Linked DNA regions of Homo sapiens: regions 1, 3 and 4 are each linked to region 2. Evidence: fine-mapped QTL for protein levels in blood plasma. A gene starts in region 2. Each other region holds a variant in brackets. All regions are shown on one strand. Distances are between the middles of the regions.

Region 1 (8,100 bases), 47 kb before region 2:
CATCCCCTTTCCCTGATTCATCCTCCATCAGTTCCCCTCCTGCTTCCAGCCCCTCCCCTTCACTTCCTGTCCTGGTGACCACGCACGCTGCCTGCACTGGCTCACCTGGCAGGCATCCTGCCCCGGGACGCCGCCTGCACACACCATGTTGCTCGTGATTCTCCCGGGATACACACCATGGCAGGTGGCATGGGAGACGATGGAGAGGTTGAGGCACTGGAGCAGATCCGGGAATGGGTCTGGAGAGAGAACATGCGTGCTGCAGGGTCCCCTAAATCTCCCCACTTTGAGGCCACGTCCCTCTTCCCTGGATGTGGCCCATCCATGTCAATACCCCTGCCCCTCACCGACCTGTACTACAATCCCGAAACCTCCAAGTTACATATTTATGACTTAATTTCATATGAATCATGACCCCAGATGATTGACGGTCTCTTTGATCTTTGACATTTGACTTTGAGTGGCATAACTCAAGAACTTTCTTGTCTCTCCAGCGTCAGAGACAACGAATCCAGACCTGACCCTCTTCAATGCCAGCTACTGTGATCTTTGACCTTCTGTCTTATTACCTTATGATCCCAGCTTGATCTCATATCTTCTGTCTCCTGACCCCATGTCCCTGTCTTTACCTTAACCTCCAACCTCAGCTCTGCATCTTCCAAACCTCACTGCTTCCAACGCCAGTGTCCCCTGATCCTAGTTTATTGGGCCCCAGCCTCCATGACCCCAAACTTCGGGCCCCACACCCCAAACGCTATGACCTCCAATCTCAGATATGTGATTTTGGATAGAATCCCAATTTCCATCCTCAGATTTTGACCAGATTGTACAACCTCTGGATCCCATGACCTTAATTCTACGGTGACCTCTAACCCCAGACCCATGACCCACAATGCCCATATCCTATACATACATATATATATATATATGCCTTTTGCTCCAGTGTGATGACCTCTGACACACTCTGACCTCTGACCTCTGATCCCTGACTTCATACCCAGTCCTTTAACCCCTTTGGCTCCCAAGACCCCAATCCACCATAATCTCTGACCCCAAACCATGATCCTGATGTCCCATCCCACACCCTGACCCTTTACCCATCCTTCCTCTGAGGTGTCATGATTCGACCTCTCGCCCTGCATCCCAGACTTGTACCCATCCTGACCCCTGACCCCTGGCCCTGGGCCCCTTACTCCGTGGGTGGTTGGTGATGCCCCAGCCTGAGACGTGGCACTCGGTGCCAGCGGTTGCACAGTCATTGGGCAGGGGCAGGGGTTGAACGCTGCTGGTTACGCGGACGGGCAGGCGCAGCCGCAGCAGCCGGAGGTCGTGCTCGTGGCTCGTCGAGGCTCCCAGGTAGCCGGGATGGGTCACAGAGAAGCCGCTGTGCCGGATCTGCTCGGTCCAGTCGAGCTGGCTGAGGCTGTGTTCCCCCAGGCGCACCCAGTACCTGCTGCCGGTGGCGACGGCTGAGCGGGTGGCAGGCACGCAGTCCCCCACCTTGCACCCCTCCACGGACACTCAGGCGCTCCTGCCGCTCCCCACTGTTCTGCCCCTCACTGTCTGTCCTCTCACCCGCAACTCTCATTCTCCGAGTCTCTCTTACAGGCTCTTATTCCCAACCTCCATCACCCTCTTTCCATCTTGGGTGTTCCCTGTTTCTCCTACCATGTCCCTGCATCTGTGTCTCTCTCTCTCCTTTTTTTTTTTTTTTTTTTTTTCAAGACCGAGTCTCGCTCTGTCGCCCAGGCTGGAGTGCAGTGGCACCATCTTGGCTCACTACAACCTCCACCTCCCAGGTTCAAGCAATTCACCTGCCTCAGCCTCCCAAGTAGCTGGGATTACAGAAGCATGCCACCATGCCCAGCTAATTTTTGTATTTTTAGTAGAGATAAGGTTTCACCATGTGTGTCAGGCTGGTCTCAAACTCCTGACCTCAAGTGATCCGCCCGCCTCGGCCTCCCAAAGTGCTGGGATTACAGGTGTGAGCCACCGCGCCAGGCCTCTCTTTCTGATTCTCTCGGCTGGTGAAGCCCATGAAGGCAGGGACATCAGTGGACCTTGTTCACTGCCTTATTCCCACCGCCTGGCACGGAGCATGTGCCCTCCATGCTCATGCGTGGACGAGTGGGTTCATGATTGAACGAGTGGGTTGATGAATGGCCTCTCTGCATCCTGCTGCTGGCCCTCTCTCTCCCTGAGTCTCTGTTTCTTTGCATCTGATCTCCCCTTTCACAAAAAAAGTTCCAGGCCAGGCACAGTGGCTCATGCCTGTAATCCCAGCACTTTGGGAGGTCAAGGCAGGAAGATTGCTTGAGCTGAGGAGTTTGAGACCAGCCTGGGTAACATAGCAAAACCCTGTCTCTACAAAAAAAATTTAAAAATTAGCCAGGTGTGGTGGCGCAGGCCTGTAGTCTTAGCTCCTTGGGAGGCTGAGGTGTGAGGATCACTTGAGCCCAGGTGGTTGAGGCTGTAGTGAGCCAAGATAGCATCACTGCACTCCAGCTTGGATGACAGAAAGAGCAAGACTCTGTCTCCAAAAAAAAAAAAAAAGAAAGAAAAAGAAAAAAATTCCAGAACATCAGTCTACTGAGGCCCAGAGAGGTGCCAGGCATAGATTCTGAAGTTGCACAAAGAGTTTGGGTCATGTTGGCCGGGTGCAGTGGCTCACACCTGTAATCCCAGCACTTTGGGAGGCCAAGACGGGCAGGTCATTTGAGGCCAGGAGTTCGAGACCAGCCTGGCCAACATGGCAAAACCCTGTCTCTACAAAAAATACAAAAATTAGCTGGGCATGGTGGCGGGTGCCTGTAATCCCAGCTACTCAGGAGGCTGGGGCAGGAGAATCACTTGAACCTGGGAGGCAGAGACAGCAGTGAGCTGTGATCACGCCATTGCACAGCAGCCTGGGCGACAGAGCGAGACCCTGTCTCAAAAAAATAAAAAAAAGAAAAAGAAAAAGAGCTTGGGTGAGACCTGGGCCCCGGGCCCAGACTGGGTCAAGGAATGGCTGGGGTGAGTGGCAGATGTCATATAGGAAAGAAAGGGTACATGCAGGAATGGGAGAGGCAGGAGGGCAGGTTCCAGGACCCTCCCCGGCCCTCCACCCAACATACCTCACCCTGCCCAGCACCACCCCAGGCCCACTGCTAAGGAAGTTCCACTCCTGGTCTAACCTCAGACTCTCTTGTTGCAGGATCAGCTTCTTCCCAGTGGGCACCACCCTCCCTTGTGATCCTACCCCCAGCGCTTGCCTTCCCATAGTCCTCCCTTCGCCCACCCCAGGAAGGGACTTACCTGCCGCTGCAGTGAGCCGCTGTGAGGACCCACCTGTGGTCAATAAGGACACCCCCGCAGCGCAGGCTGGTGCCCTCAAACAGCCCCACCTGCCACGGCTGTGAGTTACGCCCACACTCAGTGCCATTGAAAATCTTCGGTGTGGCTGCCTGGCTGAGCCCTGGAGACAGACAGGGGCATGGGTCAGAGAGAGGAAGAAAAGATACAGAGATGGAGAGACACACAGAGTGAGAGAGAGAAACAGGCAGGAGAGAGAGAGGAGAAAGAGAGACGAGAAAGAGAGAGAAAGAGAGAGAGACCCAGTGATAGAAAAAGACCATGAAACATCAAAGACACCCAGGGAGAAAGATGCTTACACATAGGAGGGAAATGGAGAGACAGAGATTCAGAGAGGGACAGAAGGGAAGAGGGATCAAAAAATAGGGGAGACCGAGGTGAGCAGTACCCTGAGAGCTGCAGGTAAATGGAGGCACAGAGAAAGCCCCTCTCCTCCTCACCACCAGGCTGGGGGCCAGAGCTGAGATGGGGAGGGTGGTGGGGCCTCCTCATGGGGGTGAAGGGATCCAGTCGCAGTCCTGCCCTCTCCCTGCTCCGGGAGAACTCACCAAGAACACACAGGAGCAAAAAGATGCTGAGCCCCATGGTGGGTCACTTCCAAAGTCTGGGGGAAAAGGGGAATCTCAGAGGTCACCCTTTCCCTGTGCCCCCCACCTCTGCCCTCTCTGCTTCTCTTTGAAGGTCACCAAGGGGATGACCTGCTTGTCCTCTCTCTACCTGCTCCCCTGTGTGTCACTCCCTCATTGGCAGTCGCCTACCTCCTTCTCACCTTGTCTCTTTGTCTGCCAGATCCTCTACGTGGCTGTCACTGTTTGGCCTGTCCTCGTCGCTGCTATCTCTCCGTCCACCTACCTGCCTGTCTTCTCATGTGCTGGCCACTCCGCCAGCCAACTCTACCACTCTGCACCTGGCTCCTCAGCCACCTGTCATGTTGCTCAACCGGTCCCTTTCCTTCCATCTGTCGCTCCAGACAGACCACTGACAAAGCTCTTAACTCTCTTTGTCCTGGCCCATCCAGTTTCCGGGTTAAGGGAAGGGGACCACGAAGACAGGGGTGGGGCGTGCTCTAATTCTGCAGAAACTCTTCTCAGCTAATCACACTTAATTGAGCTTTACAGCTAAACGGAGTGGGGAAGGAGGAAAGGACCCAGGGTGGGAAGACCCAGCCCCACTCCCTCTCTCCTCTGCAAGCCCGTCAGCAGCCCCAGGACTGATGACTCAAGGTGACTAGGGAGCTGGGTTCTAATCCTGACTCCAGTGACAAAGGA[G/T]GGTGGGGAGACCTTGGACACCTGGGGCCCATCCCCATGCAGTGCAGGGGAGGGGCAGGGGGAAGGAGAGGCTGTGAAAGCAGGAGAGTGGACGGGAGGGGCAGGAAGCCCAAGCTAGAAAGAGTCCCAGAAAGAGAAGAAGAGTTGAAGGAACAGACTTCCAAATAGGTGATCAGGCAGGGGTAGAAGAGAGTTTCTGAACTGAGTTCATATATGTACATATGAAGTGGATCAATCTAATTCCATAAAGTTTTTCTTTGCTAAGAACTTCTATTGCTTAAATAAAACCCACAGAGAGAAAAAAAAAAGACACAGGGAAGGAGAAATGGTAGAAAGAGAGAGAGAGAATGAGTCACAGGACAAGGGAACTTTGTGCTGTTTTTTGTTTTTCGTTTTGAGATGGAGTCTCGCTCTGTCACCCAGGCTGGAGTGCAGGGCTGTGATCTCCGCTCACTGCAACCTCCACCTCTTGAGTACCTGGGATTACAGGCACGTGCCACCATGTCCGGCTAATTTTTGTATTTTTAGTAGAGACGGGGTTTCACCATGTGGGCCAGGCTGGTCTTGAACTCCTGGCCTCAAGCAACCTGCCTGCCTTGGCTTCCCAAAGTGCCGGGATTACAGGTGTGAGCCACCATACCTGGCCTCTGTGCTGGTTTATCTGAGTTTTTGCTTCATCTAGGAGGAATGGAAGGAGAGAAAGAAGGAGAGAGAGAGGGGACAGAGAGAGAAAATGAGAACAAAAAGGGAATTCGGCTCAGAGGAAGGGGGATTGAGAAACAAACCAAGAGAAAAGCAGTCAGGGCCAGGCGCGGTGGCTCACGCCTGTAATCCCAACACTTTGGGAGGCCGAGGCGGGCAAGTCACTTGACGCCAGGAGTTCAAGACCAGCCTGGTCAATATGGTGAAACCCCATCTCTACTAAAAATACAAAAATTAGCTGAGTGTGGTGGTGCATGCCTGTAATCCCAGCTGCTCGGGAGGCTGAGGCAGGAGAATCCCTTGAACGTGGGAGGCGGAGCTTGCAGTGAGCCGAGATTGTGCCACCGCACTCCAGCCTGGGCGGCAGAGCAAGACTCCATCTCAAAAAAAAAAAAAAAAAAAAGAAAGAAAAAGAAAAAAAAGAAAAGCGGTCAGACAGAGCGCACAAACAAACAAAAAAACCCAGAACAAAACAGAGGAGAGCAAACTCCCACCCTATGACTGTCTTTTAGTCCTTCACTTTCTCTCTGGGTCTCCAGTCTCTGTCCGTGTCTCATTTTCAGAATCACAGAACCTTAGCTTTTGATTTGCTCTTAGAAACGACCTAACTGCTTTAACTCATCATTGGTCAGCGCGACTGGCGTTGATAACGCTGGTCCCTACAAAGCCTCCTGCTGGCTGTTAAGAGCTTTCCTTCTTTGGGCAGAGAGGATAAAAAAGCACCATGACTGTCCTTTCTCTGGAAAGGACACACGTCACACGCTCACAGCACAAAAACGCCACTTCTTCCTTTTTCTGGTGTCAAGTTTTACAATAAACCTCAACTGAATAAGCAAAGAAACAAAAACAAAAATACCAACAACTACCCAACTCAACCTCTCTCTCTTTTTTTTTTTCTGTGTAGATTTTTAAGAGAATCAGGTTTACTGATGTGGAATTTATATCCAATAAAATTGAATACAAAAAATAAGGCGGGCTCGCTGATTTTAAGGAGCATTCATGCAAATTAAAAATACCATGTATATAGTTAGTAACAATGTATTGTGTACTTGAAAATTACTGACCGAGTAGGGTTTAAGTGTTCTCACTACAAGTAAATATAAGTATGGGGCCGGGCATGGTGGCTCGTGGCTATAATCCTAGCACTTTGGGAGGTTGAGATGGGAGGATGGATTGAGGCCAGGAGTTAGAGGCCAGCCTGGGTAACATAGTGAGACCCTGTTTCTACAAACAAAAACTAAAAAAATTAACCAGGCATTATGGTGACACAGGCCTGTAGTCCTAGTTATGTGGGAGGCTGAGGTGGGAGGATCACTTGACCCCAGGAGTTTGAGGCTGCAGTGAGTTATGATTGTGCCACTGCACTCCAGCCTGGGCACTCCAGCCTGCACTCCCGTCTCAAAAAAAAAAAAAAAAAAAAAAAAGACCAGCATGGGCAACATAGTGAGACCTCATCTCCACAAAAAGTAAAAAAAAGTTAGCCTGGGGGAGGGGCATACCTGTGGTCCCAGCTACTTGGCAGGCTGAGGTGGGAGGATCGCTTGAGCCCAGGAGGTGGAGGCTGCAGTGAACCATGGTCACACCACTGCACTCTAGTCTGGGTCACAGAGCAAGACCCTGTCTCTCTATAAAAAAAAATAATAATAACTTTTATTAAAAAATAAAATAAAATAAATTTGTAGATGAGGAATATTTTGCCTCCAGAACTCAACGAGGCCTAAAATGTTTTGGGTTTGTTTTAATGCTGTGGGTGCTAAGAGACTCAATAGCTGTTTCCTGGCAGTGTCTCAGCTGGAGGGGTCCTCACTTTACCAAATGATTTTCAGAAATTTAACCAAGGTGGGGCCGGGCGTGGTGACTCACGTCTGTAATCCCAGCACTAGGCCGAGGTGGGCAGATCACTTGAGACCAGGAGTTCGAGACAAGCCTGGTCAACATGGTGGACCCTCGTCTCTACTAAAAATACAAAAATTAGCCAGTTGTGGTGGTGGGCACCTGTAATTCCAGCTACTCCAGAGGCTGAGGCAGGAGAATCACTTGAACCTGGGAGGCAGAGGTTGCAGTGAGCCGAGATCGAGCCACTGCACTCCAGCCTGGGTGACAGAGTGAGACTCCGTCTCAAAAAAAAAAAAAAAGAAAAAAAAGAAAAAGATATTCAACCAAGGTGGGAGGCCTCATACTCTGTGTGGGGCACTGGCCCATCCCATTGTGTGAGTTCCTCTAGAGTATTTGTGAATCTAGAATTAGCGTATCCTATGGGCTTCCTTTGGACAAGGGTGTTTGTCACCATATGACGTCATGCCTGTGCTTTTGGAGAAACGTGGATGGAGCTGGGGTGTTGCCTGTGTTGCATGTCAGAACGTGATAGCCCAGAGTCTGGAACTTCAGCATGCTGAGTGCTTTGAGCTGAAGGAGATTGGAAGACCTCAGGAACAAGAGGTTCTCTCCAACCTCCTCCTGCTTTCCTCTCCTCTCCCCTTACTTCTCCTTTGAAGCAGTCACAGACACTAGAATTCCTTTTCCCCTGAAGACCCTCATGTGACAGGTGTCCTGCAGAGGAAGAAATGCAACACAGAAAGGCCCAGAAGAATCTGAACAAATGGGACCTGCTGGGATCCCCCCTCAATTTATGACCAAGAGATCATACCTGTTTTTTGGTTTTTGTTTGTTTGTTGAGTTGGTTGGGTTTTTTTGAGATGGAGTCTCGCTCTGTTGCCCAGGCTGAAGTGCGGTGGCACAATCTCGGCTCACTGCAACCTCCGCCTCCTGGGTTCAA
Region 2 (8,100 bases):
AGGAACAGAAATGGAGACACTGATGGACAGGTAGCCAGAGCCACCATGGCACAGAGAACCCGAGAAGCAGACACAGGGAGACAGGCAGAGACACTGGTGGACAGTTAGGGACACAGTCCTGCCCCAGCTCTGAGGTCTCAGCCCCGGAGGTCGGGGCACTTCCTTCCCTCTCCGCTGGGTCTGGCTCTGTCTCTGTGTGCACCTGCCTGTCCCTTGAATCTCACCAGGCCCCTCTCTGTTCGCTCCAACTGTAGAACATTTGTGTGTCTCTCTTTTTCTATTTCCCCATCTCTGCCTCCCTCAAGGATGCATTAAGATTTCTAGAAGCCTCAGCACAGCCTTTCCCAGACCCATATGAGCAGAGGCCACTCTGCGATCTTTCCCCAACCTGCCTCATCCCATTCCACCAACTACCCTAAGAGGGTTACTCCCACCTGACAGATGAGGAAACTGAGGCATGAATGCTCTGAGTCCATTACCCAGGGGGCACAGGGCTAGGAAGCAGGGTGGCCTGGCTATCGGAATCTCTCTGTGCCTGCGGTTCACTCTCTTCTGAAGACCTCTGCAGACTTCCATGCTCCTGACATCATTTGCTTAAATCCCAGTCCCAAATAATCCCTACCACAGCTCCCATCCTGGGCCTTACCTGACAAGAGTCCTTCCCGCCCTGGGGAACTCCTGCACAGACCATGCCAGGCGTGATGGTTCTAGGATAGGCCTTCTGGCACACCTCATCCGGGGAGATGTTGATGTTCACGCATTGCAGAGAGGCGGGGTACCTGGCTGGGGGACACTGCAGGGTTATAACTGGGTCTACCCTCCCATAAGACCCAAGGGTCCAGGCCCCCAGCCCCTCCTCCTTCCGACCCAGGAGTCCAGCCCCAGCACCTCCTCCCTCAGACCCAGGAGTCCAGGCCCCCAGCCCCTCCTCCCTCAGACCCAGGAGTCCAGACCCCCAGTCCCTCCTCCCTCAGACCCGGGAGTCCAGGTCCCCAGCCCCTCCTCCCTCAGACCCAGAAGTCCAGGCCCAGCCCCTCCTCCTTGAGACCCAGGAGTCCAGGCTCCAGCCCCTCCTCCCTCAGACGTATGAGTCCAGGCCCAGCTCCTCCTCCTTGAGACCCAGGAGTCCAGGCCTCAGCCCCCTCCTCCCTCAGACCCAGGAGTCCAGGCCCAGCCCCTCCTCCCTCAGACCCAGGAGCCCCAGTCCCCCCAGCTCCACCTCCTGGAGACCCAGGAGCCCAGGCCCAGTCCCCTGCTTTCCAAGACGCAGGAGTCCTCACCGATGGGGCTGGATATAGTTCCCCAGCCTGACACTCGGCAGGAGGTCCCGGGGCTGGCACAGGCCTGGGTGACCTCAATGGGCCTGACTGCCCTCCCGATCCGTGCGGGCTGCTGTAGCTGCAGCAGCATGAGGTCGTTGTCGTGGGTCCGGGAGTTGTAGTTGGGGTGCGTCACCTGACGAACCACGCGCAGCACCTGCTGGGTGGCCTCCCACCTCCTCAGGTTGTGCTTGCCCAGGGCAACCTGAAGGATCCTGGCCACGACCCCCAAGAGAAGCGCTGCTCAGGGTCTGAGCCAGAGACTCCTCCCCACCCTCCAGCCCGGTTCCCTGGCCGGGTGACGAGTCTTCCCCGAGGTCTAGCCTGCTTCTCACTAACTGCAGGCCGAGCATTCTTGGCCTCCTGTGCCCTTCCCCATGGCCAGGGCATTCTCTCGGCCCAGCCCCAGCTGCCTCTCCTTCCGCTCTTGGGCTGGGCTCCAGCTCCTGGCTTGGGAAGAAGGTGATGATTGGGAGAGCTTGGCTCCGTGCCAGGGTCTGTGCTGGGCTCGGTGCATTGAGTCCTAAGCGAAACTGCGTTATGAGTCTAGGCTCTAAATCGGAACTGATATTCCGGAGTAGGCACCATTCTGTTTCTAGCCTGGGTTCTGAGTTCTAGACATCTTAAACTTTTGACTCTATGCTAAGATCAGGATTCTAGATCGAACCTGGATTATGACTTGATTTATTTATTTATTTTTTTTTTGTGATGGAGTCTCGCTCTGTCACCTAGGCTGGAGTGCAGTGGCACGATCTCAGCTCACTCTCGACCTCCAACTCCCAGTTCAAGTGATTCTCCCGCCTCAGCCTCCCAAAGTGCTGGGATTACAGGCGTGAGCCACCGCACCCAGCCTCTACAGGTCTGTTTCATATTGGATTATAGGGCTCTTGGTTCTGGACTCTGGCCCTAGCCCTTGACCTCAGGTTGGGCTCTGGGTTCTAGTTGGAGCTCTAGGTTATGGCCCGGATCCAAGATTCTAGAGTCTGGTTTGCATTCTGGCCTTTATATTCTAGACTCTGGCCTGAGCTTTGATCTCTAGGTTCTAGACTGACCTGTTTATGGCATAGATATGGCTTATAGGCATTTTGACCTCTTGGCTGGGGTCTGGGTTGTAAGTTCAGATCTAGAATTTAGGAGGGGTCTAGGTTTTATATGGGGCTTCTGATTAGGATCTGCATTCTGGGATTTATTGATTGATTGATTGATATGGAGTTTCGCTCTTGTTGCCTAGCCTGGAGTGCAATGGTGCGATCTTGACTCACTGCAACCTCCGCCTCCCAGGTTCAAGTGATTCTCCTGCCTCAGCCTCCCGAGTGGCTGGGATTACAGGCATGTGCCACCATGCCTGGCTAATTTTGCATTTTTAGTAGAGACAGGGTTTCTCTATGTTGCTCAGGCTGGTCTCGAACTCCTGACCTCAGGTGATCTGCCTGCCTCAGCATCCCAAAGTGCTAGGATTATAGGCATGAGCCACCGCACCCGCCACATTCTGGGATTCAAACACTGGGTTGAAGTCTGCTCATAGCGGAGCTATAGACTAGACTCTGAACTAAACCTTGGGTGTGAAACAGCCTCCAGGTTTTGCCTCTATTCTTAGAGTTGTATGTTCCAGCTGTGAGCAGCGTTCTAGTTCTGGATTTATGGCTAGACTGCAGGTCCTGAACTGGGCTCTGAGTTCTACGTAGTGTCCTGAGTTTCTGAATGTAGACGGGGTCCTGAATTCAGCCACCAATCTGGAATGGGCTAAGCTTGGTCTCGATGTAATGTGTGGCCTCTGGAAGAATCACTGGATCAGATGTTCGGTTCTCAGCAGGTCCATGGGTTCCAAGCTGCCCATCTGCTTTCAGAACCTATGCTGAGTTCGAGATTTATGGAGGAGCCCACATCCCGAGCTGTGTTTTTGTTCCAGGCTCTTCTCTAGACCTCAAACCAGGAGCCAGCCACTACATTGGGTTCTATACAGAGATCCAGGTTCTCAGCTCAGCTCTAGGGCTTTAGACTCTGGAATTCACTAGGTACAGGGACAGGGGAGGGGGTCACTTACGGGCGGCCGCAGTGAGCAGCAGTGATGACCCACTGGCCTGAAAGCAGGGCGCCTCCGCAGAGGAAGCGGCGCCTGGGACCCGCCAGCAGGGCCGCCTGCCACGGCTGGGAGCTCCGGGTGCACGTATGGCCACCAATTATCTTGTTCTCATCCTCTTGGCTCTGTGTCATGGCTAGGAGTGGACAGGATTGGGTGGGGAAAGTAGATGAGCAAACACTCTCCACTCCACAAGTTTGTAGGATTCCAAAACTGACAAATCCCCTTCCTTTTGGTCTAACCCCTAAACTGCCCGCCTCTATCTGTCCCACCCAGGGTGAGACATGCCCAATATTGACCCCGTTATTGCCCCAGCACGGAGAGCTTTCTGACTCACCTCCCAAGTCACCTCCGTAGCATCTCTTATTTTGTGCCGTGGCCACCTTATCCAGGGCCTTGCTACATCTACGACCCTTAGCTCTATGCTCCCATAATTTCTGTGATCACTTCTCGAAATATGCCACATTTCCCCCCAATGAGTCCTTCCCCAACACATTCAAGGACCTCCCTGTCTCCTCCCCAACGTTCCCACTCAGTGGGACCCCAAGGATCCGCCATCTCTTGCCCCACACTTGCCCCCATCCACCTCACACACCCATGCCACGATCCCGCCACCCCATGCCACGATCCCGCCATCCCATCATCCTTCTCCACCTTCCCTCTGACAACAAAACATCTTTCTGACATTGTTTCTTTCCTAACACAGTCAGGTAGAGCCCCGTGATCTTTCTGCTATGACCCACTCAGGACCTAATAGTTCCCTAAGATTCCTTATGTATTTTGCACCAGACCTTATAAACACCTCTCTCCCCGGCCCCACAATTCCCTAGCACCTCCACAACTAGGAATTTAGGCCTCCAGCACGTTCCCCCACCATGACCCCCAAACCACTCCCTGCTCTTTCTTATGAGGTCACCATGAGCATCCAGGGGCCCCAAGGACCCATCCCCATCTCTTCTCAGAGTCTCCAGGGGACCCCCTTGTGTCATACCCAACCGTTCTCTTACCTATAGCCAGGACTTGAAGTGCTGTCAGCAGGAGGAACATTTTAGGGGCTGAGGGCCAGGTCCTGTCAAATGCAGAGAAAAAGTGAGAGAGAAGGAACCTTCAACAGAACCGGGGGCTGAGAGGCAGAGACAGCAAGGGGCACTTACCCAGAGCCCAAGACCCTCAGGGACATGAAGACACAGCAGAGAGGTAGGGACCAGAGACGAGGGGGGCGGGGCCTGCAGGCTCTGCGGGCGGCAGGTGGGAGGATGTGGAGCAGGGCACAGGTCCCTCCTTGATGTCTTGATGAAGGAAGGAGGGGAGGTGTCTCTCTTCCTAGTCACACTGGCAAAGCCTTTTATCCCTGGTAAGGACAGCTGGCCCTGCCCCCACCTCCCGCCGCCCTGCTTCTGACATTTTTTTTTTTTTATTGCCTAGTTCCCATTCCAGGACTCCCTGATCCCATCCCCTCCCTCCCCTGTCTGGCCAAAAAAGCAGCCACAATTGTTCATGAGAACCCGCCCAGGGAAGATGCTATAATCTAGAAGGAATCCTGGGAGGGGACCCCAGGGCAGGGTGGGCAGGGGAGGGTTCCCAGTTGCTGGAGGTGGTGGATCTAGTGGTGGAGTCAGGAAACCAGGGTGGGGAGTGTCAGAGGAAAGGGCACGAAGGGGCTGAGAGAGGGAGGAAGAGATGGACTGAGAGAGGGAGTCACGGGAGGAGGGAGAGAGGGAGAGAGAGAGAGAGAGAGAGAGAGACAGAGAGAGATGGAGAGAGAGAAAGACAGAGAGACACACAGACAGAGAGAGACAGAGACAGGGTGACGGGGGGGAGAGAGAGAGAGAGATGGAGAGAGAGACAGAGAGAGAGCCAGACAGAGAGACACAGAGAGAGAGAGAGAAAGAGAGAGACAGAGACAGAGTGACAGAGAGGGGGAGAGCAAGAGACAGAGAGAGACTGGGAAAATGAATGAGAAGATATGACAGTGGAGAGAGAGGAGTCCAGGAATACGAGCACAGAGGCAGGTGTGCTCATGAGAGAAGGAACTGAGGAGAGAGCTGGAGAAACCGGTGGAAGTTGGATGTGACAGGGAACAGAAGAGGCAGACGGTGGGAAAAAAACAAGACAGAGGAAGAGGGAGACACAGAGACGCAGGGAGAGAGGGGTGTGGAGAAGTGGAGATAGAAAAGCAAAAGACGGAGGGAAGAAGGTGGAGATAGAATGGAAACAGACACACAGAAAGAGAAAACAGTGGAGAGAGAGGAGAGAGGCCGAGACGCCCCCACCATGCGGCACTCACCACAAACACACACAGAACAACAGCGATGATGATGAAGGCAGTGCGGGCATGAGACGTGGAAGAGAACGGGACATGGTGGGAGAAAGAGGATGGGACAGGCAGGCCGATGGCAGAGGGGAGACGGGAAGGATGGGCACCTACAGGGGATGGGGACAATGACAGAGGAGACGGAGGCCTAGATGAGAGATGGCAGCGCCAGGGAGAGATGGAGAGGAGGGGTGGGATAGAGGACGGGCAGGAGGTGGGCGGGAGATACCTGGACCTGGAGCAGAGCTGCCCACCTTGCTTTCTCACTTTCGACTCCTGAGAGATGGGGGAGCAGAGGCCCCAGCAGGGAGCAGGAAGGTTGGTGCCAGAACTGGCATTCCCCAGCTTGGGATCTGCTAGGTGCAGAGACAAAGTGAGAGCTGGAGATGCAAAGAGAGAGTGACAGAGACCCAGAGAGGGGGACAGAGACCCAGAGGGAGAGGGAGAGAGACCCAGAAAGAGAAGGGGACAGAGATTCAGAGACAGAAGGACAGTCTTAACAGACGGGGTTGGAAATTCAAAATAGGAGACGGCAGAGAGCAGGAGAGACAGAGTGAATGAGATGGGGAAGGATTCTGGCCAGCCTGCAGGGGGGTTCTGGAGTTGGGGGGGTTCCATCCTCATTTGGGGGAGGGCCTACCCTCCTCAGCCCCTCCCCTAGCCCCTTAAATTCCCCAGTGCTTGTGTCCGTCTCTGGGCCTGGGCAGCCCCGTACCTGGACCACGTGGTGACTCAGGAGGCTGCTTGCCTCCCTTGGCTACCCCAACTGTTCCCCGGCCTCAGCCTGACTCAGCCTCCCTCCACCTCGGCACCCCCCTAGGCTGGCTCTTTGAGCTGGAGCTTGGCCTGGGTCTGTCTGTACACCTGGGGACGCACTGTCTGGGCACCTGCATCTGGAGCCACACACCCATCTCTCCCCAGGTGCCTTTCTGTGATTCCTGAACTGTTTCTGTTTAACTATGGGCCTCCCTGCTTTGAGCTGAAGGCCTTGGGAAGCCTTCCCGGCCTCCTCTGCCTTGGTTCAGGCTCGGCATCAACACAAGAACCCCCTCTTTATTTTTAAATTTTTAAATTTATTTTATTTATTTATTTATTTTATTTTTTTTTCTTTTTTTCTTTTTCTTTTTTTTTTTTTTGAGACAGAGTCTCACTCTTTAGCCCCGGCTGGAGTGCAGTGGCTCAATCTCGGCTCACTGCAACCTCTGCCTCCTGGGTTCAAGCGATTCTCCTGCCTCAGCCTCCTGAGTAGCTGGGGCTATAGGCACCCACCACCATGCCCCGCTCATTTTTTTGTATTTTTAGTAAAGACAGGGTTTCACCATGTTGGCCAGTCTGGTCTCAAACTCCTGACCTCAAATGATCCACCCTCCTTGGCCTCCCAAAGTGCAAGGATTACAGGCATGAGCCACCACACCCGTCAAGAACTCCCTCTTTTAAGAAAGGGTTCTCTTGGGACCCAGGGATGGGGTGGCAGGAGGGAGCTGCTCTGTGGTGACGAATCAGCTTTGCACTGGATGTGGCGGTGATTACACGATTCTACACATGAGATAAAGAGACACAGAAGCCCACGTGCACACACACACGTGCAAAGAAATGCGTGTGAAAAATGAACGCGCAGTGTGATCTGTAGTCTCATTAATAGTTTGGTTTCTGTGTTGATTTCCTGGTTTCCATTCTGAACGACAGTTACACAAGGTGTCGCCACGGGGAGAAGTAGGTGAGGGAGATTCCCTATGCTGTGTGTGTAGCCTCCTGTGAGTCTGTAATTATCTCAAAGGAAAAAGTTAAAAATAAAACAGAATTTCCTAGTAAACACAAGGTCTCCCTGTTCCTAAAAAGAACACCCTACTTAAGCAGAAGGCCTTGGTCAACCCCCAGGAGCCTGGGAGTGGCTCCTTCATGCCACTCTATCCCTGAGATCCAAGAGAATCCTTTCTTTAAAGGGTGGCAGGGGGGCAGGTGCTGTGGCTCACGCCTGTAATCCCAGCACTTTGGGAGGCCAAGGTGGATCACCTGAGGTTAGGAGTTCAAGACCAGCCTGGAAAACATGGTGAAACCCAATCTCTACTAAAAATACAAAAAAACTGAGCTGGGCATGGTGGTGGGTGCCTGTAGCCCCAGCTACTCAGGAGGCTGAGGCAGGAGAATCGCTTGAACCCGGGAGGCAGAGGTTGCAGTGAGCTGAGATTGTGCCACTGCACTCCAGCCTGGGTGACAGAGCGAGACTCTGTTGCAAAATAAATAAATAAACAAACAAATAAATAAAGAGGGGGTTCTTGTGTTTATGCAGAGCCTGAGCCAGGGCACAGAATGACTGGAAGGCTCCCCAAGGCCTTCAGCTCAAAGGTAGGGAGACAGCTGGAGATGCAGCTGATGAGGCCCAGTTC
Region 3 (8,100 bases), 72 kb before region 2:
AAGGAGAAGACAGAGATGAAAAGGCAGAGACAGAGGGGTGAGGGAGCAAGTTTCAGAGAGAGTTCTGGGCCAGGTCATACCCTTGGGGCTGGACACGGCCCCCCAGCCTGAGATGAGACACTGCATGCCTGGGGAGACACAGGTCTGGCTGAGGTTGAGGGGCTGCACAGCAGGACTCAGACGTGCCTGCCTGGGCAGGCGGATCAGCATGATGTCATCATTGTGGTCATTGGCGCTGAGGTCCTTGTTGAAGCCAGGGTGGGGGAAGAAGTCCGTAACCCGGAACAGCTGCTCCGGACCCTCCCATTTCCAGAGGTGGTGCTCTCCAAGGCGGACCCACAGATACCTGCTGGGACAGGCCTCAGAGGTCAAGCTGGGGGAAAGGTAAAAGTCCTTTCAGCCCCAGCCCTCTTTTCCTGTCCATCAGGGTGCTGTGTGACCCTCTGCAAGCCACACACCCTCTCTGCACCCTCATCATCTATGTCTGGCCCAGGGTACTGTGATTTTAAGCGAGGCACACACCTCCTCTGGGTCCCTGGTCCCCACTCTGATGTTTTGTGTGTCTCCATCTTTGTAGCTCTCCCCACAAAGCCCCCGCTCCTAGTCCCAGGCTGAGTGAGCCACCTTCCTCCCTACTCACCTGGAGCCTTGGTGGTGACTTGGGTCCCTAGGAACGGTGTGGGCACGGGGGACCCCACCTACCACATAACAACCGCCCCACCCCTGCCCCCACAGGTCTGGTGGCTTCTGTGGGAGCGGCTCTGTATGTCTAAGTGGTGTGTGTGTATACGTGTGCGTGTGTATGAAAGGGGATGGGATATGGAAAATCCCCAAATTGGGGGTCATCTCTGGCCTCAGCTTTTCCTGTCTATCATATCCTTCACCCTTCAATGCATGTCTTCCTGGTGTCTAACCTTAAGCCCTCACCACAGTCTCAGCGCACTTGTTTCATTTCTGGTCCATGCCCTAGACAGCTGGGATCCTTTCGGGGATGACAAGTCCATTCCCCAGCCTCTGACCTCTGACATTAGGCAGCAGGCTAATGACTGCGAATTCAGGGTTGGGGAACCAGAAACATCTGTGTCTGTCTCTCTCTGTCATTCTTGCTGTCTTGGCTCTGGATCTGGAAAAGTAGTCCTCACCCCTACATCCCTTCATCCCCCTACCCTTCCCCTGCCTCTCACTCTCTTCCACCTTCATATCTCTGCATTTCTCCTGCTTCACTTTCGGCTGAAATCTGAACATCGTTCTCCCAGTCTGATGTATAGGCTTAAGTTAAAGGAGGTTCCATCATGGAGCAATGCATGATGGGAAATTCCCACACAGCATCTCTTACCACAATCAGTGCTTTACTCATGGAGGGAAGAAAATTGGAACAGTATGGATGGTCACTTTTCAGAGGCAATGGAGAGAGGATTCCTGCATCAGGTGGATTCCAGGATACTATTAGAATGCCCAGAACCTAAGATTCTAGAATTCTCAGATTCCGACACACTATTATCCATGATTCTAGAATCTAGAGGCTCAAGGTTTAGAGTTTTATGAATCCAAGATTCTAACATTCCAGATTCCCCTGGATCAAAAAAACTCCAGGATTCTAACATTATCTGAATTAAATCTAAGATTTGAACATAGAATTTTAATGTTCTAGGACAAAAAGACTAGAATTTTGGCTGGGCGCGGTGGCTCACGCCTGTAATCCCAGCACTTTGGGAGGCCGAGGCGGGCAGATCACAAGGTCAGGAGTTCAAGACCAGCCTGGCCAATATGGTGAAACCCCCGTCTCTACTAAAAAAAAAAAAAAAAAAAAAATAGCCTGGCATGGTGGTGCATACCTGTAATCCCAGCTACTCAGGAGGCTGAGGCAGGAGAATTGCTTGAACCCGAGAGGCAGAGGTTGCAGTGAGCTGAGATTGTGCCACTGCACTCCAGCCTGGGAGATAGAGGGAGACTCTGTCTCAAAAAAAAAAAAAAAAAAAAAAAAGAAAGACTAGAATGTCATCATTCTATAAATCTATAACCTTAGAAATTTAAGAGTCTGGGATTCAAATAGTTTAAGACTACAGAATTATCTGAATCTCAATATTCTAGGATACTGTGAATCAAAGATTCTAGTACTGTGAGTTTCAATATTCAATGAATCTAGAAAGCTCTGAATTTAAGATTCTAGGATCACACTAGCCATTATGGCTATTGAACACTTGAAATGTGGCTAGTCCATTTTGTAACAGGCTATGTGTGTAAAATACAGAACAGATTTCAAAGGCTTAGTACCAAAACAAAAGTAAACTGTATCGTTCATACGTATTTAAAAATTGATTACATGTCAAAATAAGTTTTTGGGTATGTCAAGTTAAATCTATTAGAATTAATTTTACTCATTCCTTATTTTTTAAATGTGTCCACCAGAAATTTAAACTTACACATGTGGCTGGCATCATAATTCCTCTGGGCAGTGCTGACCCAGACTGCTAAGATTCTAATAGTCTGCGAATCTATGATTCTAAAATTTGCTGAGGCTATTGCAGAATTTCATAAATTCAAGATTTTAGGATTCTACGATTCTGGATTTCTCTGGGTCAGTCTCGGATTCGAAGAGCCTAAGTTTCGAATCTTAGACTTCTCAAATGAGATATTGCTGGTCTCTAGAATTTTAGGATTTGGGAGGCTACCCTTCCTACTTCTAAGAGTTGAACTTGTGGTATCAGAAGTGGAGGCTCCGCACTTCTGGCCTAAAGCACCCCTCACCCTCTCCTGACCCCCAGCCTCTGTCCCTCCCCAGCATGGCCAGCCTGGGTCACTCACGGCTTGCGGCAGTGGGCAGCTGTGAGCAGCCAGCGGTCACTGATGAGGGTCGCCCCACAGAAGAGCCGAGTAAGGTGGAAGAGGCCGGCCTGCCAAGGCTGGGAGTTGGGGCGACATTCCTCGGCCCCGATGGCACGGGTGTCTGCCCAGCCATGCCCTGGGGTGGGGATGAGGGACAAAGGGGTCAGCGAAGAGCAGGCTGGGAGGGCAGGGAGAGGATGCTGAGAAGCCTAGAGGGCAGGAGGCAGAAGCCTGGGATGGGAGGGAAGAGCAAGGTGACCTTAGTACAGCCGTGAAGGGGCAGCCAGCCTGGGAGCCTCACCTGCCAGCAGAGAGAGCAGAGCACAGAGGAGTCCCAGCTTCATGACCCCTGGGCACCTGGATCCTGGAACGTGCACCCGGCGTCCAGTGCTTCTTTATGGTAAGCCATGCCATCTCCTTCCTCCTCCATGGGGCCGCCCCTGTGATTAATCGGGGTTGGGAAATGTACCTGGGGGAGGGGGAAGCCCTGGGGCTGTGACAGGGGCCTTGGGAGAGGAGGTAAGTGCAGGGGGACCCCCCTTTTGGGATGAACTGGCGGCTTGCTGGGCCAGAGCTTGACTGAATGGAGGAGGAGTGCTGGGGGTGTGGAGAGGTTGTGGGCACCTCCTCTGGGGTCTTCAGAGTGGGAGACCTCATTCCTCATCACCTTAGGCTACAAGATACAGAATCTTTTGTGTCCTGGAAAAGGAGGGAGATCCTTGAAGCCTAAGGTCCTGGGGTGCAGCAGGTTTATTTTGGATAAAGCAGTGGTGTGCAGAGACCAACCTCCCACGGCAGGCTGGAGGGATGTGCAGGGGGACCACCCAGAAAGGAGGCGAGGGGTGGAAGACAGAGTCAGGACTCAGACACAAGAGCAAAAGATACAAAGAGAGGGAGGTACAGGCACAGAAGGACCCAAGATGAGAGGAGGAGTGGGAGGAGGAGACAGAACACGGGAAAGATTGAGGGAAATCCAGGTGGAGTGAGGCAGAGACCACAGGCAGCTGCACAGGTTTACACACCTTGCAGAACCTTCCCTGCCCTGGGGATTTGGGCCTCTTCCCACAAGGACAAGGCCCTCTCCTAGAATGTTGAGAAATCTGGTTCCATCTGGATTAACCCACTCTTGTCATAACCTGCCCCCTTCCCCACGGCTCCACCACCCAAGGACCCAGGTGCCCAACCTTCCAGGTAGCAAGTGCCCTGTGCTCTCTCTTAATACATCCTGATCTTTGCCAAATCCTGAGAACATTTGCTATATATTTTTTTCATCCATCTCCCTGCCCCCCACCCCATTGTCCCTTCCATCACCCCATCCTCCCTGCCTCTCTCCTCATCATTCCTTCTCACCAGGTGGACAGCTTCTGGAGGGCTGGGCCCAGGTCTGACTCATCTCTGTGTCCCAGCATCACCCCGTTCCAGGCGGAACAGGGCTTGCAGAAGTCCTCAGGAGATGTTCATTGAATGAGTGAATGTCTTTCTCCATATCCTTCTTTTCCTGGTGAACTCCCACTCATCCTTCAACACCCAACCTCAATTCTCCCTCCTCCAGGAAATCTCTGAGATCCTCAGGCAGAGTCCATCTTTGCCTCCCCTGGGCACTTACGATCCCTTCCACTTTCTCCTGCTCACAGGCCTGGTTATGAAGCTGGGTCTGGGCTCCCCTTGAATGTTCTCTCACTGTGTCGTCATGGTTTGGAGCATGGACTCTGGAACTGAACCATGTGTGTCCAAATCTCAATGATTAGGTGTGATTAGTGATGAGGTGTGTGACTTTGGGCAAGTCACAAGACCTCTCTCAGTTGCTCCATCTGTTTTTTGTTTGTTTGTTTGTTTGTTTGTTTTCCAAAACGGAGTATTGCTCTGACACCCAGGCTGAAGTACAGTGGCGCGATCTCAGCTCACTGCAACCTCTGCCTCCTGGGTTCAAGCAATTCTCCTGCCTCGACCTCCCAAGTAGCTGGGACTAAAGGCGTGCGCCAAGACACCTGGCTAATTTCTGTACTTTTAGTAGAGACGGGGTTTCACCATGTTGGCCAGTCTGGTCTCCAACTCTTGACTTCGTGATCCGCCTGCCTCAGCCTCCCAAAGTGCTGGGATTACAGGCGTGAGCCACCGCACCTGGCCTGCTCCATCTGTTAAGTAGCAGTAATAACGAGGGT[C/T]GTTGGGGGGATTAAGCAAATTTACACACATGAAGCACAACAGTGTCTGACACATGGTAAATGTTCAATGTCTCTTCATCCCCTGCAGAAACCTGTGGTGCCTTTATCATAGCTCATTTCACCCTTGCCTGCAGTTGTCTCACTCCCTTTCCAGACAGGGAAGTCCTTGAGATCAGGGACTGGGTATCCACTATGTGCTAAGTGCCACCTTAACTGCTATTAAGAGCATTTTAGACCAAGCGCGGTGGCTCACGCCTGTAATCTCAGCACTTTGGGGGACCGAGGTGGGTGGATCACTTGAGGTCAGGAGTTCAAGACCAGCCTGGCCAACATGGTGAAACTCTGACTCTATTAAAAACACAAAAATTAGCCAGGCATGGTGGCGGGCGGCCTGTAATCCCAGCTACTCGGGAGGCTGAGGCAGGAGAATTGCTTGAACCCGGGAGGCAGAGGTTGCAGTGAGCCTAGATCGTGCCACTGCACTCCAGCCTGGGCAACAGAGCAAGACTCTCAAAAGAAAAATAAAAAAAAAATGAGCATTTTAATAGCTACCTTTATTGACTGTGTTCTCAGTGCCTGGTGTTAGGTGAACTTTGCATGTATATTATCTCATTTAATTATCCTTTTGTTGTTGTTGTTTTTTGTTTTTTGACACAGGGTCTCTGTTGCCAAGGCTGGAGTGCAGCGGCATGATCATAGTTCATTGCAGCCTCAACCTCCTGGACTCAAGTATTCCTCCTGCCTCAGCCTCCTGAGTAGCTAGGACTACAAGGTGTGCACCACCATGCAAGGCTAATTTTTTTTTTTTTTTTTTTTTTTTTTTTAGTAGAGACGAGGTTTCACTATGTTGCTCAGGCTGATCTTAAACTCCTGAGCTCAAGCATTCCACCCATCTCAGCCTCCTAAAGTTCTGGGATTATAGGAGTGAGCCACTGCGCCCAGCCTATCTCATTTAACTCTCACGGGAGTCTAATTAAGCAGGTGTCTCCATTTCACAGAGTGAAAACTGAGGAAGAGACAGCATTCAAGTAATTTGCTCAAAGTCATACAGCAAAGTGATTGAAATGCATTTCCTTCTCTACCTGGTGAACTCCTACTTATCCTTTAAACTCCTGCACAAATGTCCCCTCATTGAGAAGCCTTTCCTGACTCCTTCAGGCACAGCCTGTGGACTTGGTGTGGTGCACCCCATACCCCCTTCTGTTACAGCACTGATCTATTTGTGTTATGTGTTCACACAGCAACGGGGGTGACTTCTGTGTGCCGGGCACAATACAGGAGCTTAGAAAATCACAGTGAACAAATATCTGAATCACTGCCCTCACGGAATTTGTGGGGAAGGGTGACATAGACCATTATCAAGTAAACACAAATGAGATAATTTCAGGTATAATAGGTGCTATTAAAAAAAAAAACAAACAAACAAAAAACAGAGCATCGGGACTGGATGACCAAAAGTGGACTCCTATAGCCTGGGCAATTCAGGAAGGCCTCCCGGAGGAGGTGACTTTTGAGTGGAGACCTGAATGACAGGAATGTAAGACTGGCCTGTCTCCCTGACCTAACTAGCAGCTCCTTGAGGGTAGTGCCTGGTCTGATTCATCTTTGAGGCCTGGCATAAGACGTGGCTCGATAAACATTGTGGAGTGACTAAAGGGACGGGTGAGTTGCCTTTAATAATGAATCGAGTTTTCAAGTTTCCACCGACCTCGCTTCTGGTCTTTGGATGACAAACCCAGCTGATACGCCTGTCTGACATTTCCTGCGTGTGCTAATGGGGGCAGAATGGGAAAGAGGCCACGGAAGGGAGCTGTGTGCTCAGACCTTGTACATCAACCTCCTGTGGGCTCTGCAGGGTGGGGGACCTTGTGATCACCCCTACGTATGTCCCCAGCACCCAGCACTGGGCCTGGCACATAATAGATGCTCCATAAATTGGTAACTGAAAGGACAAACAAACAAACAAAAACCCCGTGCTTAATGGGAAATTTCTGTTGTGCCTATATTCAGCTAGCTTATGTTACTGCTTCAAAGTTCAGGATAAGCTGAGACACTCAAACTTCTTCTTTTTTTGAGATGGAGTTTTGCTCTTTTGTCCAGGCTGGATGGAGTGCAATGGTGCAATCTTGGCTCACTGCAACCTCTGCCCCCCGGGTTCAAGTGATTCTTCTGCCTCAGCCTCCCAAGTAGATGGGATTATAGGTGCCTGCCACCATGCCTGGCTAGTTTTTGTATTTTCAGTAGAGATGGGATTTCACCATTTTGGCCAGACTGGTCTCGAACACCTGACCTCAGATGATCTGCTTTCCTCGGCCTCCCAAAGTGCTAGGATTACAGGCGTGAGCCACCACACCCAGCGGACACTGAAGCTTCTATTAGCCTTACCTGGATTCTGTGTATTAACTCCCCTTCCCTCCCCCAATTTCAGGGAGAATCAAACAATTCCTCCTCCCAAGTTTTCAGGACGAAAATCTCACAGCCAATTAATAACAGACAAACCAAAGATTTTCCCCTAAATGTCAGAGGGAGGTTTCTTGGCACAAGCTGGGCAGTTGAGGTGGCAAGGGTTTCCCAATCTTCACTACCCCCTCGGCCCTCTGGTCTTAGAGGCTGGGATAGAAGCAAGGTGAGGTCCCTTGAGTTCAGTGGCCTCATGAAGGCAGAGAAGGTGCTAATGACTCAGGGCCAGCCTAGCTCGGAGGAACTGGTGTTGGGTGGAACCAGAAGTGGGAAACAGTGGGAGATGAGAAGGAAGTGGTTAAAAGGTGTTTCCTGGGACTTGGAACTAGGGTGAGGAAAATGATTCTTCCATCATCCCTAAGGGTTGGGGATGGAAGGTTGGGACTGGGGGCTACCCTGTGCACTTCTTCCCTGGACACACGCTTTCACCGGGACGTGGTCAGATCACGACAACAGGTAACCTTTAGTCAGAACTCACCACCCACTGTGTTAAGCCTTACATGACAATCACCATGAAGATTTACATACACATGTTATATCATAGTCTCCTCACAACATGTCTAAGAGGTAGGCACGTCATTGTTCCCATTTTGCAGATGAGGAAACTGAGGTTCAGAGAGGGCACTTGGCTTGCCCAAAGTCACACAGCAGG
Region 4 (8,095 bases), 14 kb after region 2:
CCCCTCCCATTTATTTCTGTTTAAGCTCCACGGTGTACCCCAACCTTCCCCCTGTGTCTCCTCTAAGTTAGTATCCTCTCCCCAGGTGCTTGGGTCAAAGACGCTTGGGAGCGTCTCTGATTCCTCCCTCGCTCTCACCTCCCATTTTGGCAGTTCCTGTCACTTAGCTCCAAAGTACACAGTAAAGAATCCACCCACTTGTCTCCTCTCAGTCGCCCTCTTCCAAGTCACCCTTATCTCCCACCTACACAGGTGCAAGAGCATCCAAACTGGTCTCGCTGCTTCCAGCCTCGACCCCCAACCCCTCCCTCCCTCGCCCTGCTAAGTCCATTCTCTACTCAGCAGCCAACGTCTTCTTAAAACAATATCATGTTAAAACCTGCTTAAAACCCATCTGTGAGTGCCCACTGCAATTATAATAAAACGCAAATGCCTCCAAGGCACTTGGTGTCTGGCTTCTGTCCATCCTTCCAACCTCATCACTGCATTGTGTACTGTGCCTCTGCCCCCTGGAACTTCTTCCATCTTCTCAACATTGGGAGGCGCCTTCCCAACTTAGAGGCTTGGCCTTTGCTGTTCCCTCTGCCTGGGACATGCTTCCCACCACTCTGCCTGTGATCTTCCTTCAGATTTCAGCTTAAAGGTCATCTCCTGACCACCTTCTCCAGAGCTGGCATTCCCTTCCAGTTTCCATCTCAGCTTCTTGTGGGTTTCCTTCCTACACCTTATCTCAATCTGTAATTGCTCTATCGGTTTGCTTCCTTGTTTATTATTATTGCTGGTTTTCTTCCTCTCTATGGTGTTTATTACTGTCGGATGTCTCTCATGTTTTATTTATTTACTTTCTTACTCTTACGTCTACTCTGTCTCCCACGACTTGAATGGCAACCCTGACAGTGCAGGGATTTTCACTGTCTTTATCTGCCTCTATGCCCTGGCACATAGGAGGTGTTCAGTAAACCTTTGTGGAAGGAAGAGGCATCTCTTATTAGAACTGAGGCTTCACGAGGGCAGGGACCTTGTCTATCTTGTTGCTGAATCCCTGTTGCCACGTCTGCCACCCGGCACGTGGCAGGGGCTCTATAACAGGCTGAAGGAGGAAGATCATCTCAGAGCCTGTTTAGAATCTCTGCTTTTCTCCAGAATCTCTGCACTCAATGTCTCCACCTCCTCAGACCTGACAGCGATCTCCAATGACCCAGCCCCAGGAGAGCACACAGGTGGAAGATGGGGAAGCCGGTCTTTCTGAGACTGGGCTCCAAATCCCTGCAGTGGGGAGAATGCTTCTGACCTGATGGGATGAGACGCTGGCGTTTCGCCCCACTGCCACCTTTAGTTGTGTTTATGTAGAGGCTGTGTTTGCCAAGGCCACAGGCCACAGCAAAAGTCCCTTTGTCCCCATGAAGACTGGGGCCTCCTGTTTAGCTAAAGGAGCGTCTGTGTTCACTTGGGCCTCCAGCCTCAGCAGCTCCCTGCCCCTGCCCTCCATATTTACCAAGCCTTCCTCCTCCAGCAAAAGAATTTCCCGGGTTTACCATGGCCACCGGCATATGTGGCGAACATCTTTTTTGTTTGTTTTTGTTCAGTCTGCCTGGAAGAAATGTCTCTTGGATTTACACTGCCTTTGAGAACACGTAGGGCTCTTCGCCCTTAGGAAACACACCCTCAGCATTGAATAGGGTTCCCAGCTCTTGGTGAGGACTTCTTAAATGGCCCTCACATCCATTCTCACCATCCTGACACCCTCGCCACTGCCCCAGTTTTGGCTACCAAATCCATTCCCAGACCTTTGTCCCAGCCCTCTCCCTGGCCTCCTGGCTGAGTCTTCCCTACTCCAGTCCTTCCTGGACACGGCCCCAGAGGGATCTTTCTGACACCCAGAGCCGGCCCTGTCTGCTCTCGCCCTCCCTAAGTGCCCCATCCCGGCCAGAAGAATTCCAGTGCTTTATGGAGGGCTGGCCACCCCCTCCACCATCCTGCACAGGGAGGAGCGGCAAAGCCTCGCAGGGACTTGGGGCTCCCATGCCTGCAGGCCTCTGTGCCTGCCATTCTCTCTGCCTTGCACATTTGTCCCCATCTCGCCCTTTCCTGTGCTCATTCTTACTCATCTCCAGCTCCCGGTTTACACATTACCTCTTTCAGGAAGCGTTCCATGACGCACCGCACTGAGTTAGAAGCCCCACCTCAGGCCTCCCCTGTGTCCCTCCTAAGCCCCACGGTGGCACATATCCCTCCGGATCTTGACTTGCCAGTATCCCTGCCCGCCTCCGCTGGCAGACAGGGAGCCCATTGAGGGCAGGGACTGGGGCTGACTCAGCTGCATTGCCCCACCGCCCTGCGCAGGGCCCGCCAGCTCCAAGGAGGCGTCAGGAAATGTTTGCTGCATGAATAAAGGGGTGATCAGTATCCCTCCTTTACTCAAATATCCTCCATGGCTTCTGCAGTGCTTAGAAACAAAGCCAAGCCAAAGTCGCTTCTCCCTCTCACCTCTCTCCTCCACCTGCCCCCTCTCCTTTTTCCCTCAATCTCAGAGTCTGCACTTGCTGTTTCCTGCCAGGAACACTTTCCCAGAGACCCTCCACCCCTGTGCTCTCTGCCTCACCCTGCACCTTTCCCTGAATATCTCCTCCTTGAAGCCTCCCCGTCCCTCCTACTTAAATAGAAGCGATTATCACGATCCAACATACCATATATTTGACTTATTTTTCTCGTTTTTTTTTTTTTTTTTTTGTATCTCCCTTGAGGGCATGGTTTTGTTCTGTTCACTGCTGTCACAAATCACCTGCTCAAAAAGTATTTGTTGAGTGGATGACACAGGGGTCTTGAGGTCAAGGAGTGTCTGGTGTTTATACGGGGCCTTAAGATCTCTGCCAACCTGTGTCTCTCACCCTTAAGGACTGGCTCAGAGACCAGCGGGCAGGTGGGCAGAGACAGCTGAGCTCCCAGTCGGGGCTGGGGAGGGGGAGACCTGGCTTTGATGTCAATGACCACCGGATGCACAGGCGAGGTCACAGCGACCCCTTGTGGCCAGAGACGAAAAGAGCACCTCCCCCCCGCCCCGCTTTTTTTTTTTTTTTTCTTTTTTTTTTTTGAAACGGAGCCTGGCTCTGTCGCCCAGGCTGGAGTGCAGTGGCCAGATCTCGAGATCTTGGCTCACTGCAACCTCTGCCTCCAGGGTTCAAGCCTCAGCCTCCTGGGTAGCTGGGATTACAGGCACCTGCCACCCCGCCTGGCTAATTTTTGTATTTTTCGTAGAGGCAGGGTTCCATCTCAAATTCCTGATCTCAAGTGATCTGCCTGCCTCAGCCTCCCAAAGTGCTGGGATTTCAGGCGTGAGCCACCACACCTAGCACCCCCAGCTCTTCAGAGACCCCCATGAGGAAGGCCGCAAGCCCAGGCTAAGAGGGACGGCGAGCACTCACTAAATGCCAGGCGCTCTTCTAAGCACTGATATGTATTTTTAACAATAACCACAGGACGGAAGTACCATTCCTCCCCACACTGTACAGCC[A/G]AAGAACCTGCTCAAGGTCACACAGCATTCCCGGCAGAGCTTGGTTCTGAACTCAGGCAGTCTGGGTCTAGGAAGCACATTGCAAACCTGCGCGGTCCAGTGGAGTGCCCACAGGTCCCATGTGGCAGCCGAACTGTGGGGAGTCTGGATTGAGATGGGCCGAAAGTGTAACATACACACCGAATTTTGAAAACTCTATATGAAAAAACATGTATAAAACATCTCGCTTAAGTTTTAACAAACTGATTACATATTAAAATTATAATATTTTGTATAAGTGGGTCAAATAAATTTATTAAAATATCACTTGTGTCCCTTCTCTAAAAATACGGCTATGAAAATATTCTAAATTATACATACGGTTTGCATTTTCGATTGGAGAGTGCCTTAAACCACAAAAGAAATCTAATCCACTGCCCACCCCACCCCATGCACAGGGACAAACTCCAATGAACAGAAGGGAAAAGGTCCCTTACCCAAAGCCACACAGTAAATCACTGGCACGTCAGCAATAGGAACCTAGGTCCCCTGGCTTCCAGCAGGTAGCCCAGCAAAAGTGTCCAGAGCTCCAGCTCCTTTGCTGATTTGCTGCAGTGTGGCCCTGGGCAACTTACTTCACCTCTCTGGGCTGTAATTTCATCCTTTATGAAATTGGTGCTGAAGGAACCAACCCAAATGCCCATCAATCAACGAGTGGATAAAGAAACTGTGGTGTATACGTATACGATGGACTACTACTCGGCCATAAAAAGGAATGAATTAACAGCATTTGCAATGACCTGGATGAGATTGGAGACTATTATTTTAAGTGAAATAACTCAGGAATGGAAAACCGAACATCCTATGTTCTCACTGATATGTGGGAGCTAAGCTATGAGGGTGCAAAGGCATAAGAATGATACTATGGACTTTGGGGACTTGGGGGGAAGAGTGGGAGGGGAACGAGGGAAAAGAGACAACAAATACAGTGCAGTGTATACTGCTCAGGTGATGGGTGCACCAGGATCTCACAAATCACCACTAAATAACTTATTCATGTAACCAAATACCACCTGTACCCCAACAACTTATGGAAAAATAAAATATTAAAAAATAAAAAATAAACTTTTAGATTCTTCTACATACCAGTTAAAAAAAATTGGTGCTGAAAACCCATTCCTTATGTCACTGAGCTAATGAGGAAGGCAGGCACACTTGGCACTAGGACTGGCACACAAGCGTCATCCTATACAATTGATCTTGATCATCTTGCACCCCCTACAGCTCATTCTCCTCACAGCAGCTGGAGTAACTTTTAGAAAATGGAAATTGGACCCACTGTTGGGACCAAAGCCCTCCAAAGACCTACCATCACTCTTAAAATACAAGTCTTTCTTGCCAACAGAAGACCATGCACGGCCCATCCCTGCTTAGTGGCTCGTTTCATCTCTTGCTATTCTCCTCCTCACCCACTCTGTTCCCGCCACACTGGACTTGCTGTTCCTTGCACTTGCAAGCTGATTCCCACCCCTCCAGGCTTTTGCACCAGCAGTTCCCTCCACCAGGAAAGCTCTTCCCCCAAATGGCTCCATGCTTTGTTCTTTTGCTTCTGTAGGTCTGTGCATAACGTCACTTCCTCCAAGGCCCTTCCTTCCCTGACCCCTGTGGAAACAAGCTCTTCCTGTCTCTCTCTCTCATCATTTTTTTTTTAATTTGTAGCATTCATCACTACCTGACATTACATATTGATGTGCTTGCTGTCCGTTTCTCCCAGACTGAACTTCATGAGGGCAGAGACTTGTCTCCTGTTCACTGCCATGTTCCTAGAACCCAGAGGAGTGCCTGATGCAAAGGAGATGCTCATACACGTTTTGAGTGAATCATCTAGTCCTTGGCCTCCAGCCCAAGTTTGGGTGGCCACACAGTGAAGACAGGACTGAGAAGCAGGGGTTTGGGAGAATACTAAGCCCTGGGTTGGGTGATGGGAGGAGAGAATTGAGAAGCCTTCTAGGAGGACCCTGGAGGATCTGAGCAGGGTGATGGGAAGAAGGGGCATTTCTGACAAGAAGCCAGCCCAGCAAGTCCTGGAGGTGGGACTGAGAGCACCATCTCCCCGGGAAGTTTGAGATTCTCACAACCTCCCCGTACCTGTACAGGACAGCAACCCTGAGACCCGGCGCCCCCTGGTGGTCAGACAGTAACATGAACGACCAAGTCCAAGTGGTCACCATTTATTGAGCACCTCAACTTCTCTGATCTTCCATTTCCTCCCAGTGGTGCCTTGATGCGGGGGGGATGGGGGGGCGGGGGGGAAGGGGGCTGATTATATTTTCATAGGAGAAATGGGACATGAAAGAGGCTAAGTCACCGACAGGCTCACACAACCCTGCCTCCAGAGTCCAAGGTTTGGGGAACGCATCCAACCCCTCCTCACCCGTGACAGAGATACCAGGAGAGATTCGAGAGGGGATGGGTGGGGGAGGACCAATTCCACGACCTGTGATATTCGAGAGCTTTGGAGGGAGCCCTCGGTGTGACCCCTTCCGACTGGGTGTCTTAGGGCCATTTACCACTTCAGGCTACAGCCAGTGAGACCGTGGTGGAGACGAAATGAGGGTGCAGTGCGTGCTACACACGAAGCGCTGGAAGGGAGGCATCGTGACGGCGGCTGTGAATGGCGTGTGTCCATCAAGTCACGCTCCGCTTACCCCACTGCGGGCAAACAGGAAACATCAGGAATCTGATGCTCAAGGAGGGTCAGGACCATGCTGAGCGCACCCAGAACCAGCAGAGGCCCTGGGCAGGAGGTCCCCAACCAATCCCCACTCGCTCAAGAATCACACGGTGTTCAGCCCCCTCCTCCCTGAGACCCAGGAGTCCACGACCCCAGGCCCTCCTTCCTCAGCCACAGATGCCTGGGGTCCCCAGTCCCACTTCTTCTAGGCTTAGTCCTGGCCCTCTCCTCTCTCAGACCTAGGATGGTCCCCCAGCCCCCTCCTCCCTCAGAGCCTGAAGCCCAGTTCGAGACCCTTCTTCCCTGAGACCTCGAAGTCTGGGGTCCCAGCTTCTTCAGGGTTTCAGGTGAATGGGCCCCCGTCTCCTTCCCAACCCCACATGGAAGGCCAGGTAAGGTAACGGGTTTATTCACAGTGTCATTTACAGGCAGCCCCCACCCCGCGGCATCAGATCCCGGCGGGAGGCCCGAAGTCGCTAGAAGGTGGGGACGGCCTTGGAGGCGGGGGGCCGGGCCGGATCCCCGGGCGTCCCCGGCGTCGCCTCCTCGTCCAGACCCCGGCGGCCCTTGCCGATGGCCAGGCGGGGCCGGCCGCGGTTCAGGCCGTCCAGGAGCGCGCAGGCCTGGCAGAGCGCGCGGCTGGCCAGCGCCCCACAGCGGGAGCAGGCGCCGGGGCGCGGGGGCCGCGCGGCCGGGGCCAGCGCCAGGCGCTCGGCCGAGTGCACGAGGTCCAGCACCGCGGACGGCCGCGCCGCCTCCAGGCGCTTGAGCAGGTCCCGGGCGTGGCCGCGGAAGGCCTCGGGCGCGTAGACGCACTCCTCGGAGAAGTAGTCGAGGCGGCGGAAGTGCGCGTACAGCACCACCTCCTTCTGCGAGGCGAACTGCAGCGGGCGGCAGCGCGGCAGGGCGCCCCCCTCGCCGGGAGAGCCCAGGCCCCCGCCCCGGGCCAGCCGCCCCGCGTCGCCCCGTAGGAAGTTCATGAGCACGGTCTCCGCCATGTCGTCGGCGTTGTGACCTGGTGGGGAGAGAAGGGAGCGGGTGAGGTGGGGCGCGGAGGGCGCTGCTGGCCAGGGAGCCCCCCGGGGAACCAAGGGTCCACCAGGACCCAGAGAGAGACTGGGAGGAGAGACCCACGGAGACCCAGGGCACAGTGGGGCCGCCAGGACCCAGAGAGAGACGGCGACGGGGAGAGCAAGCCATGGAGACAGACCCCCAAACATGGTGTGACAGCCAGGATCCAGAGACAGGGAGGGGGAGAGAGAGCCATGGAGACCCCTAGGGCACTGTGGGCAACCAGGACGCAGAGAGAGACGGGGAGGGCAAGAGCGAGCCATGGAGACCCTCCGGGAACCGTGAAGCAGCCAGGTGCAGGCTGCAGGTGGACACAACAAAAAATCAAAGAGAAACATAAGCTCCCCTGGCGCAACTTGGGCGTGCCTTCATGTACCACCCGCCTACTGCATAGCGGACCTTATGCTAGTTGCCCTTTCATATAGGGAGTAAAAGTGCATTATGCTGCTAATAACCTTATCAGCCTCAGTTAAAACCGTAATTCAAACTGTACACAAAAATCAGAAGGCATTTAAGGCATTTAACCGAGATTCTCAGGAGAGCTGGAGGGGTAGGCAGGCTGCTGTCTCCCCCACCGCCTAGGGAATCCATGGCCTAATTCTGGGAACCTGTTAATATGTTTGGTTGTAGGACAAAGGGGAATTAAGGTTGCAAGTTGAATTGGGGCTGCTAATCAGCTGACTTTACAATAGGGACAGAATGGTGCGTTATCCAGGTGCGCTCAAGGTAATCACAAAGACCCTTAGAGGGGAGGAGGGAGGCAGAAAAGGGAGAGATAGGGCCATGGAGACCTTTGAACA

Alleles and levels. Alleles are on the strand shown, and positions count from the first base shown. The strength of an association depends on the size of the effect and on how common the allele is. Not every link is listed here.
For the plasma level of the protein whose gene starts at base 4,719 in region 2, allele G in region 1 goes with a higher level than allele T (moderate association).

The links. PIP is the posterior inclusion probability: the model's chance that the variant is causal. Protein levels are from antibody-based Olink assays in UK Biobank. Linkage for the fine-mapping came from a reference panel and not from the study's own genotypes, which makes the PIPs less certain.
Region 1: its variant is fine-mapped to the plasma level of the KLK14 protein (UK Biobank, PIP 0.94).
Region 3: its variant is fine-mapped to the plasma level of the KLK14 protein (UK Biobank, PIP above 0.99).
Region 4: its variant is fine-mapped to the plasma level of the KLK14 protein (UK Biobank, PIP above 0.99).

What each region holds. Positions count from the first base shown.
Region 1 is chr19:51,030,683-51,038,782 of GRCh38, forward strand. It overlaps KLK12 (kallikrein related peptidase 12), which reads right to left and starts at 4,320. Exons shown (of 6, transcript NM_001370125.1): 1 at 4,124-4,320; 2 at 3,903-3,958; 3 at 3,298-3,457; 4 at 1,194-1,453; 5 at 106-239. The coding sequence starts at 3,939. RefSeq lists an enhancer at 7,434-7,934. The variant G/T (reference allele first, on the strand shown) is at 4,623.
Region 2 is chr19:51,078,169-51,086,268 of GRCh38, forward strand. It overlaps KLK14 (kallikrein related peptidase 14), which reads right to left and starts at 4,719. Exons shown (of 6, transcript NM_001369775.2): 1 at 4,554-4,719; 2 at 4,407-4,468; 3 at 3,364-3,535; 4 at 1,281-1,534; 5 at 647-783. The coding sequence starts at 4,446.
Region 3 is chr19:51,006,378-51,014,477 of GRCh38, forward strand. It overlaps KLK9 (kallikrein related peptidase 9), which reads right to left and starts at 3,215. Exons shown (of 5, transcript NM_012315.2): 1 at 3,128-3,215; 2 at 2,806-2,962; 3 at 81-346. The coding sequence starts at 3,170. KLK10 (kallikrein related peptidase 10) reads right to left here. Exons shown (of 6, transcript NM_145888.3): 6 at 6,362-8,100. RefSeq lists enhancers at 202-701, 3,098-3,598. The variant C/T (reference allele first, on the strand shown) is at 4,989.
Region 4 is chr19:51,091,901-51,099,995 of GRCh38, forward strand. CTU1 (cytosolic thiouridylase subunit 1) reads right to left here. Exons shown (of 3, transcript NM_145232.4): 3 at 5,706-7,239. The coding sequence ends at 6,701. Among named protein-coding and RNA genes, the nearest start is that of CTU1, 12 kb to the right of the region's middle. The variant A/G (reference allele first, on the strand shown) is at 3,512.